Linked DNA regions of Homo sapiens: region 2 is linked to region 1. Evidence: fine-mapped expression QTL. A gene starts in region 1. The other region holds a variant in brackets. All regions are shown on one strand. Distances are from middle to middle.

Region 1 (5,368 bases):
AGCCTCCTGAGTGGCTGGGACAACAGGCACATGCCGCCACACCCAGCTAATTTTTGTATTTTTTGTACAGACGGGGTTTCGCCATGTTGTCCAGGCTGGTCTCGAACTCCTGAGCTGAAGTGATCCACCCACCTTGATATCCCAAAGTGCTGGGATTACAAAGAGCCACTGCACCCGGCCCGTATTTTCAATTTCAATAAAAAGCTAAGAATAAAAAGTGGTACTGGCTGTAATCGTAAATTACACCAGGTCTATTAGAAACCCCAGGACATGAAGGGACCCCAAGCATCCTGGGGGCTGTACCCCTTGGCCTCCCAGGCTGGCGCCACAGGACAGAGCGGACAAGACATTCTGTTTCACAGCCCTGAGCTCTAAAGGGAGAAAAGCAAGTTCTTGTTCTTAGGAAGTGAGCTCTGCCGGCCTCCTCCCTTCCATGGAGCTGTGTGAAAGGCAGCTGAAAGGAATGAACCAGCCACCTGCCTAAACCCAAGGGATTAACTGCTCTGCTGGGACATTTATGGAAGGGTGTGCAGAAAGCTGGGGCCAGTGTGGCCAGTTCTGGGAAGAAATTATCTGCTCAAAGCCACTGGTCAGACTTTCAGAAGAGGGGAGGGACACGGTCCCCAATCAACTTGGGGACAACCTTGGATTGGAAAGAGGCACAGATTCTGGCAGAACCCAGCAGAGGCTGGACTCAGAGCAGCAGGCTAAGGAAGCTGTGGCAACAGAATCCAGCAACTGTCCCACCTGACACCTCAGAGCCCCACTGGAACTCGGAGCACGTCCCAGAGTGGGCTCTCTCGCGAACATGCAAGGCTGGGCACAGCAGCTGTGACATCCCAGTCCCCACCTCCTTGCCTGATAACCGCCTCACACGCCTGCCTGGTGGGTTCTTTCCTTATATAGCAGTCACAGAGACCGCCCTTCCTCACCCCGACAAAGGAGGTAGCCTCGTGTTTGAACTGGGATTTATCTTTAATAAAAACCGTAGAAGCCCAAACTCAGGCGGACTGGGACCCGCCTACCATGACTCGGCAGTGTTTTGGGGTTTGGGCCAAGTAACTGGAAGAAAACCTCTTAACATGTGACCATGTTTACAGGCTCCGGGGAGTTCAGCCTAAACACCATGTGACCAGAGCACAGAGCCTAGGTGCAAGCCCAAGGGAACCTTGTCACCGGGTGACAAAGAGTGAGTCAGGGGGCCCGGTGTGGCTCAGCAGGGAGGGAGAAATTCCCCGGCTTGTGGGGAACAGATGCCTCACCGGGCGTCGGCCTCCTGCCCGTCCCTGGATTCCTTAAGGAGAAAAAGAAAGCACCCATTGTGCGGGGTGAATGCCCCAGTATCTTCCAACCAAGTGGGGAGGCACCTCCTGGGCACGGAGTTGGCTCAGCCTGGCAGCCCCGGCCGCACGGGGCACAGAGACCCACAAGCAGCTACTTGTCCCGGCTCACACAAGGGGCCCTTCTTCAAGGTTAAAAGTATCGCCCAGAGACATGTAGTCACCAGAGCCCCAGCTTGGACTCAGGTGCGCCCCTAGGATTCCAGGCTCTGTGCGCTTCCCCCGCGAATAGCTGGGCTCCCGTACCGGCGAGGTTCAACCCCAGAGAGCCTGCCCAGCCCCTGGCCCACTCACCCGTCACGTAGATGTCATTGCCCAGCGCCACGATGCTGTAGCCTCCGCCCAGGTGGTCTGGGAACTCGGCCAGGTAGCGCCACTGACCCGTCTGCGGGTTGTAGCAGTCGACAGTGACCAGCTCGTCACAGTCCTGGTCGCAGCCGCCCACGAGCACGAGGATCTCGGCGAGACCGGTGGACGGGCGAGGACGCATTCGGGGACAGGGCCCGCGGTCGTGGCGGTCGTAGCGCGCCGCCTGGAAGTCGCGCGCCTCGCGCAGCAGGCGCAGGCAGGGTGGGCAGCGCGCCACCAGCGGCTCGGCCTCGACGTGCGCCAACAGGTAGAAGCGGCGCACGAAGGGCAGGCGCACGGCCTCCAGCAGCTGCGGCCAGTGCGCGGCGCGGCGCGGCGGGTCAGCGCGGACCCAGCGCAGCGCCAGCTGGTAGGCGGCCTCCTCCTTGGGCACACACAGCCCGTCGTCCCGCAGGTAGCGCAGCAGGCGCGCCAGTGGCAGCCGCTCCAGCTGCTCGGCGCCCAGCTCGCCCACGTGGCGCAGAATGAACCGCTGCGCCGCGCTCGCCAGTCCCGAGCAGCTGAAGGCCTCAGCGAAGTCCTGCATGTCCAGGCAGTTGGCCAGGTCGAGCTGCTGCTGCAGGAAGGCCCCGCACGCCTCCTTCACGGCCGGGAACTGCAGCAGGTCGGCGGCGCGCAGCAGCGGCTCAGCGTTGTCGCCGCTTACCGCCACGCGGCCCGTGTAGCTGAAGTCCAGCAGCAGCTGCAGCATGTCGGGAGGCACTCCGTGCAGGCGCACCCGCTCGGCGCGGCTCTCGCGCAGCTGCCCCGCGAACATGGCGCGGAAGTAGGGGCTGGCGGCGGCCAGCACCGCACGGTGCGCCGGGAAGTCGCGCCCGCCCGCCGCCTCCAGGGTCACGTCCAGGAACTTGCGCTCGGCGCGCAGCTGGCTCAGGCCGCGCAGCAGGCTCAGGGCGTGCGCGGGGTCCGAGAAGGGAAGCACGGCCAGGGGCGCCGGTCGCTCCATGGCGCCTTCGATAGGTTGTCGAGGACGCCGCGGCCGGGGCCTGCGGAGAGACGCGGCGCGCTAGGCACCGCTGCTATAAATAGGGCGGGGCGCCGCGGCTCTCGAGGGGCGGGATGGGCGGGGAGACGTCTGCACCGCCCCCTTAACCCCTCTGTGCCGGGCGCCACCGCCCCCCGCGAGCGCGGGCTCGCCTGTCCCCCGCGCGGCGCCCGCCCCCGGCTCCGCAGGCTGAGTCACCGCTGTCCGCGGCCGGCTCCCTCCCTCCGCCCTTCTGCGTCTCCCCGCTGACGCCCGGGCCGGGGACAGCGAGTGACAAGTGCCAGGTCCGAGGGCGGCCTCGCCGCGCGCCGGGACCGGGGGCCTCCCGGGGTTGCCCACGACCCACCCGGCCCGGCTGCTGAACCCAACCCGGGAGAGGCGAGCTCGGCCCTGAAACCAAAGCCACCCCTCCTTTCACGCCAGACTTCCCAAGGGCGCCGGCCCAGGTCCCGGGGCGGCTGGGTACAATGGCTTTTTGTTTTGCTTTTGAGTTCCACTAGTTTCAAGGGTTGCTAGTTAACCCCATCACGGGACACACTCAAAGGATAGGCTTTTTACCATTCTGGACCAAAGCAAGAACGCGTATAAAGTTTTTCGGTGACGTTTTTTTCTTGGCGCATTTATAAGCGACCCGGGGCCGGATTCCAGGAGTCGGCCCCACTCCTGTGTTCCTGAAGGAGCTTCTGACTCAATCACACAGGCGTTAACTTTAGTCGGCTTCACGCGCAGTTGTAGTTTCCGAGTCTGCGTCGCAGCTGCAGGCTCCGGGGCTGCCCGCCCTAGGGGCTCCCGGGCCTCCCTGAAGCAGCTGCTCGGACTCCACGAGAGGGTAACTGGGTATAAAGAGCGAGGGCTCAAAGTCAGATAGGAGACCGCCTTGAAACTAGATGACGCCACTAAGCACAGTCCCGCCGTCACTTGTACTGCGGTGGGGAATGGTGAAAGAAGGAATCGCCCTTATTTTAGTTCCGATAGACACAGCACCACTTTGAATGTCACTTGTAGGGGAAAAAGAGCCCTCCCTTGGAGGCCATTTTTTCCTCAGTGGAAGGTAGGCTTTGCTCAGTTTTAGAAAAGACCCCTATTTCACCACCAGGACTGCTGCTTTGCAGAGAACACTTGGGTTTGTGCTGTTTTCCAGCCCCCCTACACCGGTGGGCCTTTGAGAACGCATTCCTGAGGAAGGCGCCCGCCCACGTGGGTCCCAGAGCAGGCCACGCGCATGGGAGCTGGCTATCATTTCCTGGTTCCAGCGAGGTCTAGGGCCGCGTAGCGTTTCCAGAAGACATTTTGTTTTTATTCCACCTCTGAAATGAGAACCGCAGGCTTTCTCTTCTACTTAAGAGTTTCACGTCATTTTGCCATAAGAATGCATCTGGTCTGAATTTCAGGGTGAGCATGGGCAGCACAGGCCCAAATCAGAAAACATTCAGGTACCCAGGCGGGCCGCCTGTTGCCCATAGAAGGACTGTTCACACAGCTATTCAAGGCAGCGGCAGCATTCCTGGGCCCAGGAGCAGGGCCAATAGCTTCCTTGCACAGGCTTTGTGACAAGAAAGGCTGAGTAGCCAGGAAGTGGAATGTTTGTAGGGAAAAGAACTCCCGTCCCCTGGGTCAGCTTACCCATCTTGCGTAAGTCCAGTGATTAAATCAATAATGTTTCCATAGTTGAGGATTGAGTACGGTTTTTCTGTATTCCCAATAACAGGGATTTTTAAACATCATATTTCAGTCTTACTATGTAGCCTTGAAGAATAATGATGTATTTATTGAAATGGAAAGATGTTTGAGCTATAAAGCGAAAAATCAGATTACTCATTGTATGACCCAAATTGATTTATATGTATTCATATGCCTAAAAAAATTTATTAAGTTAACATTTTCGGCCAGGCGCCGTGGCTCACGCCTGTAATCCCAGCACTTTGGGAGGCCGAGGTGGGTGGATCACCTGAGGTAGCGAGTTCGAGACCAGCCTGGCCAATATGGCGAAACCCTGTCTCTACTAAAAATAAAACAATTATAATTAGCTGGGTGCTGTGGCGCACGCCTGTAATCCCAGCTACGCGGAGGCTGAGGCTGGGGCAAGATTTCTTGAGGCCAGGAGTTTGAGACCAGCCTGGGCAACATAGTGGGACCCAATATTTTGTCTCAACAAAAAGTTTTCAAATTGGCCAGGCGTGGTGGCATGCACCTTTAGTCTCAGCTACTTGGGAGGCTGAAGTGGGAAGATCACATAAGCCCAGATGACAGTGAGCTGTCATTGTTCCACTGCTCCCACTCTGCCTGCCCCACCCCTGAAAAAAAGAAAGAGCTAAATAGCATGCCTGGGTTAGTAGGTTATTCAAAATTCCTAACACAGCTGATAGGTCTAAATCGGTTCCTTTCTTTTCTCACCACATTCCTTTGTTGAATTATCTATATATATACATGGTTTCACATGCCTGGTAGGCCCCGGTTATCAATGAAATACTTCTTTTCTCAAGATATGAATTCTTAATTTTACTTTGAACTTAAATTAACATTAACAGATAATGTACGTGTAGTACAGAAAGAGAATGCAGGCAAGCAAAAACAAAATGAACATAACCACCTAGATGACATGTTGTTTGTTTTTTGAGACGGAGTCTCACTCTGTAGTGCACTGGCACGATCTGAGCTCACTGCAACCTCTGCC
Region 2 (5,368 bases), 150 kb after region 1:
TTAAGGATTTAATTCTTTAACATTAAAATTAATCCAAATATTGATAAATCTATCAACAAGTTTTTAAGGGAGATAATTTAATGCATAATCCCTGCTGGGTGCTTATTAAACATGAGGCTGCATATTCCAGGGGACAGAATTTGTGTTTGAATCAGGTGCTTCGTTGGAAAGATTTTGGCTTAATTCAACACATTTTTTAAAAAGGAAAAACAAATTGGATGTGCAAATCTTCTTTGTAAGAAAAGGGAAAAAATCATTTTATTATGAGCAGTAAATCAAGAAATCAAGTTCTTACATCTATGAGTCCTTAGGGGCAGACTGAAAAATCTCACGGTATCTCACTTCATGTCATGAAGCAAATGGTGGTGGGTTAAGTTCTAAATTTGCATGAAAAATTCAGGGCAGAAATAAATTAGGGTAAATTGAGGGATGTCAAAATCATATAAAAATTAAGATGAGGCCAGGCGCGGTGGCTCACGCCTGTAATCCCAGCACTTTGGGAGGCTGAGGCGGGTGGATCACAAGGTCAGGAGTTCGAGACCAGCCTGGCCAACATGGTGAAACCCCGTCTCTACTAAAAATACAAAAAATTCGCCAGTCAGGGTGGTGTGTGCCTGTAATCCCAGCTACTCGGGAGGCTGGGGCAGGAGAATTGCTTGAACCTGGGATGTGGAGGTTGCAGTGAGCCAAGATCGCACCACTGCACTCCAGCAGCCTGGGCAACAAGAGCAAAACCCAATCTCAAAAAAAAAAAAAACAAAAATTAAGATGTTTGGCAACTTTCAAGGTTTTTTTTTTTGTGTTTTGGAGACAAAGTCTCACTCTGTTGCCCAGGCTTGATCTTGGCTCACTACAACCTCTGCCTCCTAGGTTCAAGCCATTCTCCTGCCTCAGCCTCCCAGATAGCTGGGATTACAGGTATGCGCAGCCACACCCGCTAATTTTTGTATTTTTAGCAGAGATGAGGGTTTTGCTATGTTGCCGGAATGGTGTTGAACTCCTGACCTCAGGTGATCCACCCACCTCGGCCTCCCAAAGTGCTAGGATTACAGGTGTGAGCCACTGAACCCAGCCTGGACTTTTAATATCTTTAAGAAGTATTTTTGCCTTCATCAACACAAACCTTTGGACATATGTGCAAGTAACTACAAGAAAAATTACCAGTTCATCAAATGTTTGACTTGCCTGCCATTCTGTCACGTGGTAAATAAGGAAGAAATCCTCTCTCTTACCACCTTCCCAGATGAAATAGTTCATAGTTCTAGGCAAGTCGGCTAGGAGCTGTTTGTAAAGCAGAGCTAGGTACAGACAGATGCCATCCCAACGATAATGCTTATCACCTAGAACTTGAAATTGACAGCCGGGTGTGGTGGCTCACGCCTGTAATCCCAGCACTTTGGGAGAACGAGGAGGGTGGATCACCTGATGTCAGGAGTTTGAGACCAACCTGACCAATATGGTGAAACCCCGTCTCTACTAAAAATACAAAAATTAGCCGGACATGTTGGCGTGCGCCTGTAGTGCCAGCTACTCGGGAGGCTGAGACAGGAGAATTGCTTGAACCTGGGAGGTGGAGGTTGCAGTGAGCCTAGATCGTGCCATTGCACTCCAGCCTGGGTGACAGAGCGAGACTCCGTCCCAAAAAAAAAAAAAAAAAAGAACTTGAAATTGACACATCATGGGCTCCCCCCCTTAATTTATAGTGCAATAAAAGCAGTAATAAATGTAGGTGCACTTCACCTTTGCAAAGAGTTACCATTTTTACGATTTTGACAAGTTCACACTCCTGGTTTTACCTTCACACTATCCCAGGCTCAAGTATTTAATATTTAACAATCTGTATTCTATAAATAATAGATGTGCCTGTCCTCACAACTGAAGATCAGCAGCAGATTTTATTGTTGACAAGAGTGATAATGTTCTCTCACCTGCTTAACTTTTTATGTTACTATTAATTTCCCCTTTGTGGCCGAGGGTCCAGGGAGGGGTTTGGGTCATTCTGGAGACAAATGGGCTGTAATAAGGCACCTGGAACCAAGCATTTGGAGAAGCATGGATAACTCTATGATCATTTCAGCAGTCTGAGGTCACAGACTCATGCAAATGGTGGAGCTGGGTGGAGTCATCCTCTCACTTCCTATGACAGTGAGGCAGCTGCAGGTCTCCATCCAACAAACACTGGGCTAATGCCTACTAAGTGCAAAGAAGACCCTGTGGGACAGTTGTCTGTGAAGGGATTTGGCCAAGGTCAGACAGCTAATTCTTGGAAGAGTGAGTGAAATTCAATTCAGTTCAATAAATGGTTGGAAAACATTAAGAAAGAGAGTCCTGGCTGGGCACGGTGGCTCACACCTACAATCCCAGCACTTTGGGCAGCTGAGGCAGGAAGGTTGCTTGAGCCCAGGAGTTCAGGACCATCTTGGG[C/A]AATATAGATAGACCTCATCTCTACCAAGATTTTTTTTTTTAATTAGCTGAGCATGTGGCACACACCTGTAATCACAGCTTCTCAGAAGGCTGAGGTGGGAGGATTGTTTGAGCCCGGGAGGTTGAGACTGCAGTGAACCAGATCATGCTACTGTACTCCAGCCTGGGCAACAGAGGAAGAGCCTATCTCAACAAACAAAAAAAATAAATAAATAAAAAAGAAAGAAAGAAACAAAAGAAAAAGAAACACAGTCCTGGCTCTCAAAAAGCTTAGATCATATGAGTTCTCTGCTGAAAATTTCTACAAATGGATTTCTGCTACATTTATAATAAAACCCAAACTCCTCATCAGGGCCAAGTCCCCTTGAGTTCTGACTTCTTCTTTTTTTTTTTTTTTTTTTTGACATGGAGTTTTGCTCTCTTGCCCAGGCTGCAGTGCAGTGGTGCAATCTTGGCTCATTGCAACCTCCACCTCCCAGGTTCAAGCGATTCTCCTGCCTCAACCTCCTGAGTAGCTGGGATTACAGGCACGCATCACCACGCACAGGTAATTTTTTCTTTCTTTTTTTTTTTAGTAGAGATGGGGTTTCACCATGTTGGTCAGGCTGGTCTCGAACTCCTGACCTCATGATCTGCCTGCCTTGGCCTCCCAAAGTGCTAGGATTACAGGCGTGAGCCACCGCACCCGGCCTTATGTACATTTTTATATAAGGAAAACAAAGCTCGTAGAAGCCACGACTTGCCCAACGCCACCGTGTACCATTGGCAGTGGCAGGACCAGAGAGAGCCTAGCCCCGGCCATTCGTCCAGCGCCTTCCTTAGGATGTTCCCAAATTGGAAAGTAAGGCTGGAAACAAGAACGAAGGAAGCCAAGGAGTTTCTGCTGATACCATGATACTGACGGCCAAATAGGAATTTGGAAACAAACTCTAATTCCCTCGCCTATTTCCTTTTCCCTCTTGCATAGTTTACTGCTGACTATGCAATGGTTGGAAGAATTAGGCTCGATACTGGCTTCAGCCCGTCATCATCCTTACGGCTCTGAGGATCCCAGATCTTGTTAAATAATCCTCTGTAGCGTTTAATTGTGTCTTTGGGGAGGCTTGGATGAGGGGAGGCAAGCGAGGTGCTTCCAGTGCAGACTGTAAGGGGGTGCTCACTCTCCTGCTGTGCACACGCAGGGTGGGCACCCTCGAGTGGAAACCTCTGGAGACGCTGTACCTGGCTTCCTGGCTTCCTGGCTTGCCTCCCCCAGTCCTGGCTCTGGCCTTGGGTGCCCACCAAGCCTGCTGCTGGGGACGTGCTAGGTGCAGGGAGAGTGGTGTAGAGCTGAGTATTCCCACCTTAGGCTCGCCGTCATTGCGCCTCCATGTGGGCACAGTCTCGTTTCTTTTTTTTTCTTTTTTCTTTTTTTGAGACGGAGTCTGGCTCTGTCGCCAGGCTGGAGTGCAGTGGCGCGATCTCGGCTCACTGCAAGCTCCGCCTTCCGGGTTCACGCCATTCTCCTGCCTCAGCCTCCCGAGTAGCTGGGACTACAGGCGCACGCCGCCCCGTCTGGCCAATTTTTTTGTATTTTAGTAGAGACGGGGTTTCACCGTGTTGCCCAGGCTGGTAGCAGACTCCTGAGCTCAGGCAATCCTCCCGCCTCGGCCTCCCAAAGTGCTGGGATTACAGGCTTGAGCCACCGCTTCCGGCCCACAGTGTCTTTTCTCTTTACATTCGAGCCTCCCCTCCCCTCCCTGTGTCCAGCAGCAGACTCGGTTTATCCCTAGAAGACAGAGAGTTCCCACAGAGGAATTCTCTTCCCCTTCCCAGGGCCTGTCATTGCAACTCAGGGGGGCATTTTCACCCAGAGAAAGGGGCCTCAGGGGAGTAGTACAGAAAATGAGGGAATTCTCTCCCTGCTCTCGCCACAGCCTCTGCATGTTCACTGGGGCAAGTGGCTCCTCTTTCCCATCCAGGATTTCTGGCATTGGAAATTGGAAAACAGTCAGGTGACGTGTCTCATCAGGCCTGTAAGAAAATATTATCTGCTGCCAGGCATGGTGGCTTACAACTATCTCAGCACTTTAAGAGACCAGTGTGGGAGGATTGCTTGTGGTCAGGAGTTCCAGACCAGCCTGGACAACATAGGGAGACCCTGTATCCACCAAAAAATTTAAAAATTATCCAGGTGGTGCAGTCCTGTAGTCCTAGCTACTTGAGAGGCTGAGGTGGGAGGATCGCCTGAGCCCAGGAGTTTGAGACCAGCCTGGACAATACAAGGAGACCTGGAGTCTCTACAAATAATTTAAAAATTAAGGCCGGGCACGGTGGCTCACGCCTGCAATCCCAGCACTTTGGGAGGTCGAGGCAGGCGGATCACGAGGTCAGGAGATCGAGACCATCCTGGCTAACACGGTGAAACCCCGTCTCTACTAAAAATACAAAAAATTAGCCGGGCGTGGTGGCGGGCGCCTGTAGTCCCAGCTACTCAGGAGGCTGAGGCAGGAGAATGGCGTGAACCCAGGAGGTGGAGCTTGCAGTGAGCCGAGATTGCACCACTGCACTCCAGCCTGGGCAACAGAGCGAGACTCCGTCTCAAAAAAAAAAAAAAAAAAAATTAGCTGGGCATGGTGGCGCGTGCCTGTGATCTCAGCTACTTGGGAGGCTGAGGTGGGAGGATCACCTGAGCCCAGGAGGTCGAGGCTACAGTGAGCCATGATTGTTTCATTGCATTCCAACCTGGACTACAGAGTGAGACCTTGTATCTAAAACATAAATAAAATATGATATACTAAGTTAATGCTAACTCAGCACCCATTGCTCATAGGAAATTCCTGGCCATTGCCATTTTCCTTCAAATTGCAAGAACAGGCTGGGCGTGGTGGCTCAGCCTGTAATCTCAGAACTTTGGGAGGCTGAGGTGGGCGGATTACCTGAGGTCAGGAGTTCGAGACCAGCC

Evidence for each region. PIP is the estimated chance that this variant, and not a neighbour inherited with it, causes the effect.
Region 2: its variant is the best candidate, but not a certain one, in a credible set for the expression of KLHL21 in whole blood (TOPMed, PIP 0.65).

Annotation. Positions count from the first base shown.
Region 1 is chr1:6,600,163-6,605,530 of GRCh38, forward strand. It overlaps KLHL21 (kelch like family member 21), which reads right to left and starts at 2,707. Exons shown (of 4, transcript NM_014851.4): 1 at 1,635-2,707. The coding sequence starts at 2,655. It overlaps LOC107984913 (a long non-coding RNA gene), which reads right to left. Exons shown (of 2, transcript XR_001737882.3): 2 at 3,285-4,485. RefSeq lists enhancers at 1,223-1,362, 1,393-1,442, 3,203-3,292, 3,313-3,472, 3,513-3,662 and silencers at 1,703-1,782, 1,963-2,122, 2,723-3,112, 4,077-4,425.
Region 2 is chr1:6,754,546-6,759,913 of GRCh38, forward strand. No RefSeq gene overlaps it. Among named protein-coding and RNA genes, the nearest start is that of CAMTA1-DT, 28 kb to the right of the region's middle. The variant C/A (reference allele first, on the strand shown) is at 2,425.